Regions from separate parts of the Homo sapiens genome. Here region 1 is linked to region 2. Evidence: fine-mapped expression QTL. Tissue or cell type: whole blood. Region 2 holds a variant in brackets; the other region holds the start of a gene. All regions are shown on one strand. Distances are from middle to middle.

Evidence for each region. PIP is the estimated chance that this variant, and not a neighbour inherited with it, causes the effect.
Region 1: it holds the start of TAF13, and the variant in region 2 is fine-mapped to the expression of TAF13 in whole blood (GTEx, PIP above 0.99).

Annotation. Positions count from the first base shown.
Region 1 is chr1:109,073,657-109,078,764 of GRCh38, reverse strand. It overlaps TAF13 (TATA-box binding protein associated factor 13), which reads left to right and starts at 2,762. Exons shown (of 4, transcript NM_005645.4): 1 at 2,762-2,844; 2 at 3,700-3,778. The coding sequence starts at 2,818. It overlaps TMEM167B-DT (TMEM167B divergent transcript), which reads left to right. Exons shown (of 2, transcript XR_947688.3): 2 at 119-473. RefSeq lists enhancers at 2,505-2,754, 2,855-2,914, 3,519-4,505.
Region 2 is chr1:109,021,548-109,026,755 of GRCh38, reverse strand. It overlaps WDR47 (WD repeat domain 47), which reads left to right. Exons shown (of 15, transcript NM_001142551.2): 2 at 3,235-3,401. The coding sequence starts at 3,244. Among named protein-coding and RNA genes, the nearest start is that of WDR47, 18 kb to the left of the region's middle. The variant CTTCTA/A (reference allele first, on the strand shown) is at 2,962.

The DNA.
Region 1 (5,108 bases), 52 kb before region 2:
CTTACTTCTAGTGAATAGAATAGGGCAGAAATTATAGGATGTCACTTCCAAAATTAGGTAACAAAAAACCTGTGATTTCTGTCTTTTGGGTTCTCCCACTTGTGTCCTCTGGAGGAAGGCAACTGGCACATTGTGAGCTGCCCTATGGAGTGGATTACATGGCAAGGAACTGAGGGAGACCTCTGGGCAACATCCATTAAAGAACTGAGGCCCTTAGTCCAACAACCTGGAGGAAGTGAAACCTCCAGCAACCTGTGAGTGACTCTGGCAAATTCTCCTCCATCAACACTTGAGGTATGACTGCAGCCCCAGCCAACATCCCGACTGCAACAGGAGGGACCTTGAGCCACAGGCACCCAGTTAAATTGCACCCACATTGCTGACCCACAGAAACTGTGTGATATTTGTTTTAAGCCACTAAGTTTTGGGGTAATTTGTTACAGCAATAAATAACTAATATATCTACCTACTCACATAATTTTGAAAATAACATAATATCCTAACAGGATCCAGTGATCCAGTGGCCAGGAGGTCAGGCATAAAGGTAATATAAAAGTAAAGTAAAAATAGTAACATTTGTTTCAATATATAAATACTCAGGTATGATGGCACTAGGGGGGGATAATGAAGATTTCAGATGCTTCTACCTATATGTAGAATTGCTTTGAATGCAGACTGATTTGGGTGAGTATTGTCGACCTAAAAGGAAGAAGCTGAGGCAAAATTAATATAAATAGAGAGTTTATTTGGGCCAAACTTGAGGATTACAACTCAGCAGCATAAAGTTGCCTAGAATATACACTCTAAGATTAGCAGCAGGTACAAGTGGATTTTTAAAGGAAAAGAATGAGGACAGGGAGTGGGCTGATACAAAGTTGTCTTTAAGGAGTTCTCATTGGTTCACAAAAATAACATTGATTAGTAATTGGCTAAACATTATCAAGCTATAGGGTGTGCGATATGGTGTCTGATGGGGCATAATTAGGCTAATTTATAACTAATACTTGTGGCAATAGCAAGCGGTTTTAAGACATAAATACATAGCTCAAAAGGGGGCAAGCAGGATGTGATTGCCTCTCATTTTAATGCCTCTTTGGGCCTAATAATTTAACTCACATTCCTCAAATCAAAGTTATTTTTTCATTATTCACTATTCAAATTATTACAAGTGATGTTGCTTTTGGTGACGTTATTTCTTGAAATGGTACACAGCTCTTAATGAATTCCAGACCAAACAAAATACAATTACTATTCAATTTTGGGGTAATAACATTCCTAGAAACTTCAACGTACATTAAAAGTGTGGGAAAATGCTTTGTGTTTATTTTTTTAATTTTTATTTTTTGAGGTGGAGTCCCGCTCTGTCACCAGGCTGGAGTGCAGTGGCACAATCCCGGCTCACTGCAACCTCTGCCTCCCGGGTTCAAGCGATTCTCCTGCCTCAGCCTCCCGAGTAGCTGGGATTACAGGCGTGCGCCACTACGCCCAGCTAATTTTTGTACTTTTAATAGAGACGGGGTTTCATCATGTTGGCCAGGATGGTCTTGATCTCCTGACTTTGTGATCCGCCCACCTCGGCCTCCCAAAGTGCTGGGATTACAGGCGTGAGCCACTGCGCCCGGCCGCTTTGTGTTTATTAACAAAGATAGGTTCAACTCTCAGATAATTAGTTTTCACTCACCGAATGTTCAGCAGGACATTCAGAAATCGTGTGTATTACGGGATTTTCTTTATGTAGCATCATCTGTTACACTGTAGGGACATTTATATTATATCCCTAGCTCTGGCCTTCCGATGCCTGTGGTTTTGCCAGCCATTGTTCTGACCAAAAGCCTTCCCCGGTGGACACGGTGGCTCACACTTGTAATCCCAGCACTTTGGGAGGCAGAGCGGGGCAGATCGCTTGAGGCCATGAGTTCCAGACCAGCCTGGGCAATGTGGGGAAACCCCATCTCTACTAAAAATACAAAAATTAGCTGGGCATTGGTGGTGTGCGCCTGTAATCCCAGCTACTTGGAGGCTGAGGTGGGAGGATGGCTTGAGCCCAGCAGGTCTAGGCTGCAGTGAACCCTGATTGCGCCACTTCACTCCATCCCGGGGGACAGTGAGGTTGTGTCTCAAAAAAACAAAAATAAGGCCGGGCATGGTGGCGCACGCCTGTAATCCCAGCTACTCGGGAGGCTGAGGAAGGAGAATCACTTGAGCCCGGGAGGCAGAGGTTGCAGTGGGCCGGGATCGCGCCACTGCACACTTCAGCCTGGGCGACAGAGTGAGACTTCGTCTCAAAAAAAAAAAAAAAAAAAATCAAAAAACCTTCACAAAATTTTAAATGCTTAGTCTCGGGACACCATCTCTTGGAAATTTGTGATGAAGCACAGTATCCCCAATAATTAACACAGTGCTTAGAAACAGTGGAACTACAAATCTTTAAAATGATTTAAAAGCATATTTGTCTGATAAAGGACTGCTGGCTTGCCCTCCTATGATCCATAGCTTCGCAGTCCCCAAACAAGAAGCTGTGATTCAATACGCAGTAGCAAATTCAGGGTGACAACGAGATACTCGCGACCTAGCCCGTGATTTCCTTTTCTTTGTTAGTTTTCAATTCCTTCGGGATTACAGGGAGGCGCTCCGGCCTCCTCCCTTAGAGACTGTCGCATTTCCGCCGCTAGGCCGGAAAGCACCACCGTCCTCCCGCAGGCCGCAGAGGGCTAGGCCCAGCTACGGCCCCGCGCGTCACCGGAAGTGAGGCGGCGGAAGTAGTGTAACCAGCTGGGAGCCAGCCGGCAGGACGCTGTGAGTTGGCGTGCTAGTGGGATGGCAGATGAGGAAGAAGACCCCACGGTGAGTGACCGTCTCTGTCCAAAACCTGTCTTTTCTTCACTCCTTCGGGCTCAGTAGCGGAGGCAGAGTTCAGGATCGGGTCTGCTTGCCTTAGTGAATTCAGCGGACAGAGTTCGGGGACTTCACGCCCTAAGGATTGATCATTTTAGAAAGTGGGGAAGGACATGAAGGAAGAGTAGGTTTTGTGACCCCTTTCCCCTTGATTTTGGTCTGTATTTGCCAGACACTGAAACACGTACAGAATCATCAGAGATCAAAACTAACATCTATTAGCGCGCACTATGAGCCAACAGTTCAATTGTTAACAAAACTGTACTTACTGTGAAGTAATGGGAAAAGAATGCATTGAAAGTCAGACAGCCTGGATTTCAAAATTTCCATTCTCTCTGAGCAAGTTATTTAACTTTGAACATCAGTTTTCTTTTTATAAAATAGGGTTACGGGCTTACTTAAGGAACGTTTTTAGCACTGTATAAGCAAATGCATAGGAAATATTAGTTTTGCTTACTACAAAGTCTACAAAGGTAGACTTTGATTCAGTATCAACTGTTTAACAGTAACAGTAGTAATAGGCCACCTTAGTTGTTTAAAAATAAAACTTATGGTCATTGGAACTCTTACAAGTAGAAGCAGTAGGATTATTAGTTAGGAACATTGTAGAAGCCATTTTTGCATGAGTTGGAAGTTGGACTAGATACATAGGCTCCTTCAATGCTAAGGTTTCGTGGTTTTTTTTTTTGCTGCTTCCTTTGGCTTTCTGGCCTATCTGTTGAAAAGGAAAAAAAAATGTCATTATTAAAATATCAAATGCAAGGCAATTATTTGACATTTCTATATATACATTTTAACTTCTAGTTTGAGGAAGAAAATGAAGAAATTGGAGGAGGTGCAGAAGGTGGACAGGGTAAAAGAAAGAGACTTTTTTCTAAAGAATGTAAGTAGTATTTGACAATGATTTTGTTATAGATGATGAAAACTTTTGGACATGTCCTTTCAAAGTAGCTTTATTGCTTTGAATGTTTCCCTGTAGGGATAATATTCTCAGACTAGCCTATCAAATTCTGTTTAACTTTTGAATCAGATAGTACCAATCCTAACCCCAATTGTGTGTGTGTGTATAAATTGCTTTTTTTTTTTTTTTGAGACGGAGTCTCGCTCTGTCGCCCAGGCTGGAGTGCAGTGGCGCAATCTCTGCTCACTGCAAGCTCCGCCTCCCGGGTTCATGCCATTCTCCTGCCTCAGCCTCCTGAGTAGCTGGGACTACTGGCGCCGGCCACCACGCCCACCTAATTTTTTTTGTGTGTTTTTATTTTGCTTTATTTTATTTTTTTAATTTTTTTAGTATTTATTGATCATTCTTGGGTGTTTCTCAGAGAGGGGTATTTGGCGGGGTCATAGGACAATAGTGGAGAGAAGGTCAGCAGATAAACATGTGAACAAGGGTCTCTGGTTTTCCTAGGCAGAGGACCCTGCGGCCTTCCTCAGTGTTTTGTGTCCCTGGGTACTTGAGATTAGGGAGTGGTGATGACTCTTAACGAGCATGCTGCCTTCAAGCATCTGTTTAACAAAGCACATCTTGCACCGCCCTTAATCCATTTAACCCTGAGGGGACACAGCACATGTTTCAGAGAGCACGGGGTTGGGGGTAAGGTTATAGATTAATAGCATCCCAAGGCAGAAGAATTTTTCTTAGTACAGAACAAAATGGAGTCTCCTATGTCTACTTCTTTCTACACAGACACAGTAACAATCTGATCTCTCTTTCTTTTCCCCACATTTCCCCGTTTTCTATTCGACAAAACCGCCATCGTCATCATGGCCCGTTCTCAATGAACTGTTGGGTACACCTCCCAGACAGGGTGGCGGCAGGGCAGAGGGGCTCCTTACTTCCCAGATGCGGGCGGCCTGGCGGAGGCGCTCCTCAGTTCCCAGACGGGGTCGTGGCCGGGCAGAGGCGCTCCTCACCTCCCAGACGGGGTGGCGGCCGGGCAGCGGTGCTCCTCACCTCCCAGACGGAGTAGCGGCCGAGCAGAGGCGCTCCTCACATCCCAGACGGGGCGGCCGGGCAGAGGTGCTTCCCCACATCCCAGGGGATGGGCAGCCAGGCAGAGACGCTCCTCAATTCCTAGACGGGGTGGCAGCCGGGCAGAGGCTGCAATCTCAGCACTTTGGGAGGCCAAGGCAGGCAGCTGGGAGGTGGAGGTTGTAGCGAGCCGAGATCACGCCACTGCACTCCAGCCTGGGCAGCATTGAGCACTGAGTGA
Region 2 (5,208 bases):
TGTTGAATATGAAGCCTATACAATGTTTAGTATCATTGGTATATTGAGCTATATTAGAAAATTATAGTCCCAATTGTGCATTAAGTTTGTGTGGTTGGTACATGGAGATATATGTGATGTGCCCTCTAAGAACCTACAGAGGAGGGAATATTTTTTTCTGAGAGTTAAATTAGTAAAAGCCATTTTTTTGCTAGTAAGAATTACCTGAAGGGCTACTCTGGGCACACTGCCTATTGGGTAGCCTGCTCTGCAAGGAGCAGTAAAAATAAAAAAAAGAATTGTCTAAAGATTTGAGGAATGCTAAAATCACTAATCAGTGTGCTCTAAGAATAATATTAGGGAGACAGTTCTGATATGATCAGAATTTAATGAGTAGTTTCCACGGATAACCTGAAAAAAAAAAAAAGGTGGGCACGGTGGCTCATCCCTGTAATCCCAACACTTTGGGATGCCGAGGCGAGAGGATTGCTTGAGCCCAGGAGTTCGAGAGCAGCCTAGGCAACATAGGTAGATCCCGTCTCTACAAAAAGTAAAATAAAAAATTAGCTGGGTACGGTGGCACACACCTGTCATCCCAGGTACTTGGAAGGCTGAAGCGGGAGGATCACTTGAGCCTGGGAGGTCAAGGCTGCAGTGGGCCATGGTCATGCAACTGCACTCTAACCTAGGTGACAGAGCAAGACCCTGTCTTTAAAAAAAAAAAAAGAATTTAGTGAGTGGAAATCTTAACTTATTTTACCGTATCCTCTTTTGGACGAAGTCTGTGAACAGGAGGATGGTGGTCAGCTCAGAAGATAGGAAAGGGAAACCTAAAGCATGCGGAGTTGGGTAGCTGGTGTGTTGGGAGATAAGTTTGTGATTTACTGTTTCCTGAGACAGACATATTCTTACTCTGCAGAGGGATTTGTGTAGTCTGATGTCATTAAATATTTGAGTGAGTCGTATAATTATTTTTCTGTGGTTTGTCCCTTGTTTACCCTAGCGCCACTTTTTTTTATTTGTTAGTTTTTTTTTCTTTTTCCGAGATGGAGTCTGGCTCTATTGCCCAGGCTGGAGTGCAGTGGCACAATCTTGGCTCACTGCAACCTCCGCCTCCTGGGTTCAAGCAATTCTCCTGCCTCAGCCTCCCAAGTAGCTGGGATTACAGGTGCGTGCCACCACGCTCCGCTAATTTTTGTATTTTTAGTAGAGGTGGGGTTTCACCATGTTGGCCAGGCTGGCCTCAAACTCCTGATCTCATAATCCACCCGTCTCAGCCTCCCAAAGTGCTGGGATTACAGGTGTGAGCCACTGTGCCCAGCCTTCTTTTTTTTTTTTTTTTTTTTGAGGCAGAGTCTCACGCTACCGCCCAGGCTGGAGTGCAGTGGTATGATCACCGCTCACTGTAGCCTCAACTTCTGGGGCTCCAGTGATCTTTCCACCTCAGCCTCCTGAGTAACTGGAACTACAGGCACACATGCTGGCTGATTGTTATATTTTTGGTAGAGACCATGTTTCGCCATGTTGCCCAGGCTTGTCTCGCACTCCTGGGCTCATGTGATCCTCCCACCTCGACCTCTCAAAGTGCTGGAACTACAGGTGTGAGCCACCATGCCCAGGCCTCTAGCTGAGGGAGAAAATGTACTCATCTGCTGATGAGAGCATTCTAGTCTGCTAGACATTTGCATTTCTTGTTATAAACAAAAAAATCAACCCAAAAGTAAAGAAATGGAAACAACACTAACCTGTGGGCCTACATATATTTTTTGTTTTGTTTTGTTTAGAGACATGGTCTTCCTCTGTTGTTCAGAGGTGTGCAGTGGTGTGATCATAGCTCACTGTATGTAACTTCTAACTTCTGGGCTCAAGCGATCCTCCTGCTTCAGCCTCCCAAAGTGCTGGGACTACAGGCGTGAGTCACTACACCCAGTCCACATGTGTATGTTTATGTTTCTGCAAGCTTGGTTAGAATAAGTTGGTCCTGTGAGAAAGATATGCTTATAGTCTGTTTCATCTGATGAAGTTTCTTTGTGGCTACTCCCCTAGTGTGGTGGTATTTTGCATTGCTCTGAACCTTAACATTTGAAAACTGTAACAGTTTAGGCCATTTAACTTGTGTGGCTTCACTGGTAAAATTAGAATGTTGAACAAATGATCTTATAGTCCTCCCAGGTCTAAATCTTTATGGATTCATAACCTGAGCATTATGTGCTCAGTTGTAGCAGACCTACAGGTAAGAGTTAGAAGGAAGCTTAGAGAGTATTGAAATATCACTGATATTACCCATATGACTAAAGTTGCACTTTTTTCTTTCTTTTTTTTTTGAGACGGAGTCTAATTCTGTTGCTCAGGCTGTAGTGCAGTGGCACGATCTTTGCTCACTGCAGCCTTGATCTCCTGGGCTCAAGCGATCCTCCCACCTCAGCCTCCAGAGTGCTGGGACTATAGACACACACCATCTTGCCCTGCTAATTTTTTAATTTTTTTTGTACAGATGTGGTTTTGCCATGGTTCCCAGGCTGGTCTCGAACTCCTGAACTCAAGCAGTCCCTCCACTTTGGCCTCCCAAAGTACAGGGATTACAGGCGTACGCCACTACACCTGCCCTAAAGTTGCACATCTTAACTAACCTTGTTTTGTTTGGCTCCGCTGTACTGACCAGGTCATCATTTAGGTATTACTGCTAGACTAAAGCTTCTTAAAGCAAGGCCAATGTCTCCTGAGTACAGAATCATGTCTGTCACAGAGAAAAGGCATTAAGTACTTATTGAGTGAATGTATTAGAGCATACCTGGGACAATGTATTTGGGACATAGCTAAACATGGTTTGGTTATTAATGACTTTTTAAAATATTCTCTATTATGGAAAATTTTAAACATGTAGGAGTAGACAGGATTATATAATAAACCCTCATTTACCTATTACCCTGCTTCAGTAACCATAATCATTCTTGTTTCATCTTTATCTCTTCCCACTCTTCT[CTTCTA/A]TTATTTTCATGTAAATCACAAAGTTTATATCATTTAATCTGTAATTATTCCAATATGTATTTCAAAGATAAGGACTTTAAAAAATCATGGCCATACCATTGTCACATATTAAAGAACGACTTGGTTTTGATAAATACTAAGTTAACTTCACTTCAGAATATGTGTACTAAAGATTCCCAGTAAACCTGTTATGTGTAGTTGCCAGGCAGTTAAACTTAGAAATAAATCAATAGGACTAGCTTTATTGTTTTTCTGTTTCATATTTAGGCTATCAATATGACGGCTGAAGAAACAGTGAATGTAAAAGAGGTTGAAATCATTAAGCTAATTTTGGACTTCCTGAATTCAAAGAAGCTTCACATTAGTATGCTGGCCCTGGAGAAGGAAAGTGGAGTCATAAATGGCCTGTTTTCAGATGATATGCTTTTCCTGAGGTATGATTTCATTATACTGTGAAGTTTGTAGCTCCTTCGAAGAAATGTTAAGTATTAATAAGGTAATATATATAATACAGATAGAACTTTATAATCATGAAAAGGCTATGTAAGTATAATTTTAAAAAATATTTTATTTTATTTTATTTTTTGAGACGGAGTCTTGCTCTGTCACCCAGGCTGGAGTGCAGTGGCGAGATGTCGGCTCACTGCAAGCTCCGCCTCCCGGGTTCACGCCATTCTCCTGCCTCAGCCTCCTGCGTAGCTGGGACTACAGGCGCCCATCACCACGGCCAGCTAATTTTTGTATTTTTAGTAGAGATGGGGTTTCACCATGTTAGCCAGGATGGTCTCGATCTCCTGACCTCGTGATCTGCCCACCTTGGCCTCCCAAAGTGCTGGGATTACAGGCGTGAGCCACCGCACCCGACCTAAAAAAATATTTTAAAAATAGAACATTTACAAAATAGGCTGGGCGTGGTGGCTCACGCCTGTAATCCCAGCACTTTGGGAGGCTGAGGCAGGCGGATCACTTGAGGTCAGGAGTTTTGAGACCAGCCTGGCCAACATGGTGAAATCCCGCCTCTACTAAAAATATAAAAATTAACCGGGCATGGTGGCACATGCCTGTAATCCCAGCTAGTCGGGAGGCTGAGGCAGGAGAATCATTTGAACCAGGGAGACGGAGGTTCCAGTGAGCTGAGATCGCACCGTTGCACTCCAGCCTGGGCAGCAGAGTGAGACTCCGTCTCAAAAATACAAAAATAAAAAAAAGGAACATTTACAAAATAATGCTTTCTGTAGAATGTTTTCAGTAGTAAGACCCAGAGGTCTGTTAAAAAGAACAAGAGTCATCACTCCATTGTGGTTGTGGTATGATAATAAAAGATATTTGACTAAGAAAATCGGACTTTGAAAAGGTAAAGAAAATGTTTCTGAAATACCATTTTTTGGCCATAGAAATAAGATGTGTTCATTATAGAAAATATAGAAAGATAAATAAAAGAAAAATTACCCCACCACACAGACATAATATTGTTCTTATTCCTTGCTGTTTTCATTCTTAGAGTGTAAATTCTGTGCATCTTTTTTTTGCATCTATTAAAAATAACAATTCTGTTGTGTTTATGATTTAGAATCATGCCTTATCTATTAACATCACAAGGTTTCTCTGTGTGATTACAAACTTATATTTAAAAAATTTTCAGGCTGGGCATGGTGACTCAAACCTGCAATCCTAGCCATTTGCGAGTCCAAGGCAGGCGGATCACCTGAGGTCAGGAGTTTGAGACCAGACTGGCCAACGTAGTGAAACCCCGTCTCTACTAAAAATACAAAAATTAGCTGGGTGTGGTGGTGCATGCCTCTAGTCCCAGCTACTCGAGAGGCTAAGGCAGGAAAATCACTTGAGCCCGAGAGGCAGAGGTTGCAGTGAGCCATGATGGTGCCACTGTACTCCAGCCTGGGCGACAGAGCAAGACTAAATAAATAAATAAATAATAAATTAAATAAATAATAAATTAAAAAAGGCCAGGCGTGGTGGCTTACGCCTGTAATCCCAGCACTTTGGGAGGCTGAGCCGTGTGGATCACTTAAGGTTAGGAGTTCGAGACCAGCCTGGCCAACGTGGTGAAATCCCGTCTCTATTAAAAATACTAAAATTAGCTGGGCATAGTGGTGCATGCCTGTAATTCCAGCTACAAATAAAAAATTTCAGTTTACTTAATTTCCTAATGGCTCCCCTAATTTTAAACAATTGTTCCCAATTTATCTTAAATAATTGCTCTACAGAACATTTTATACTTGC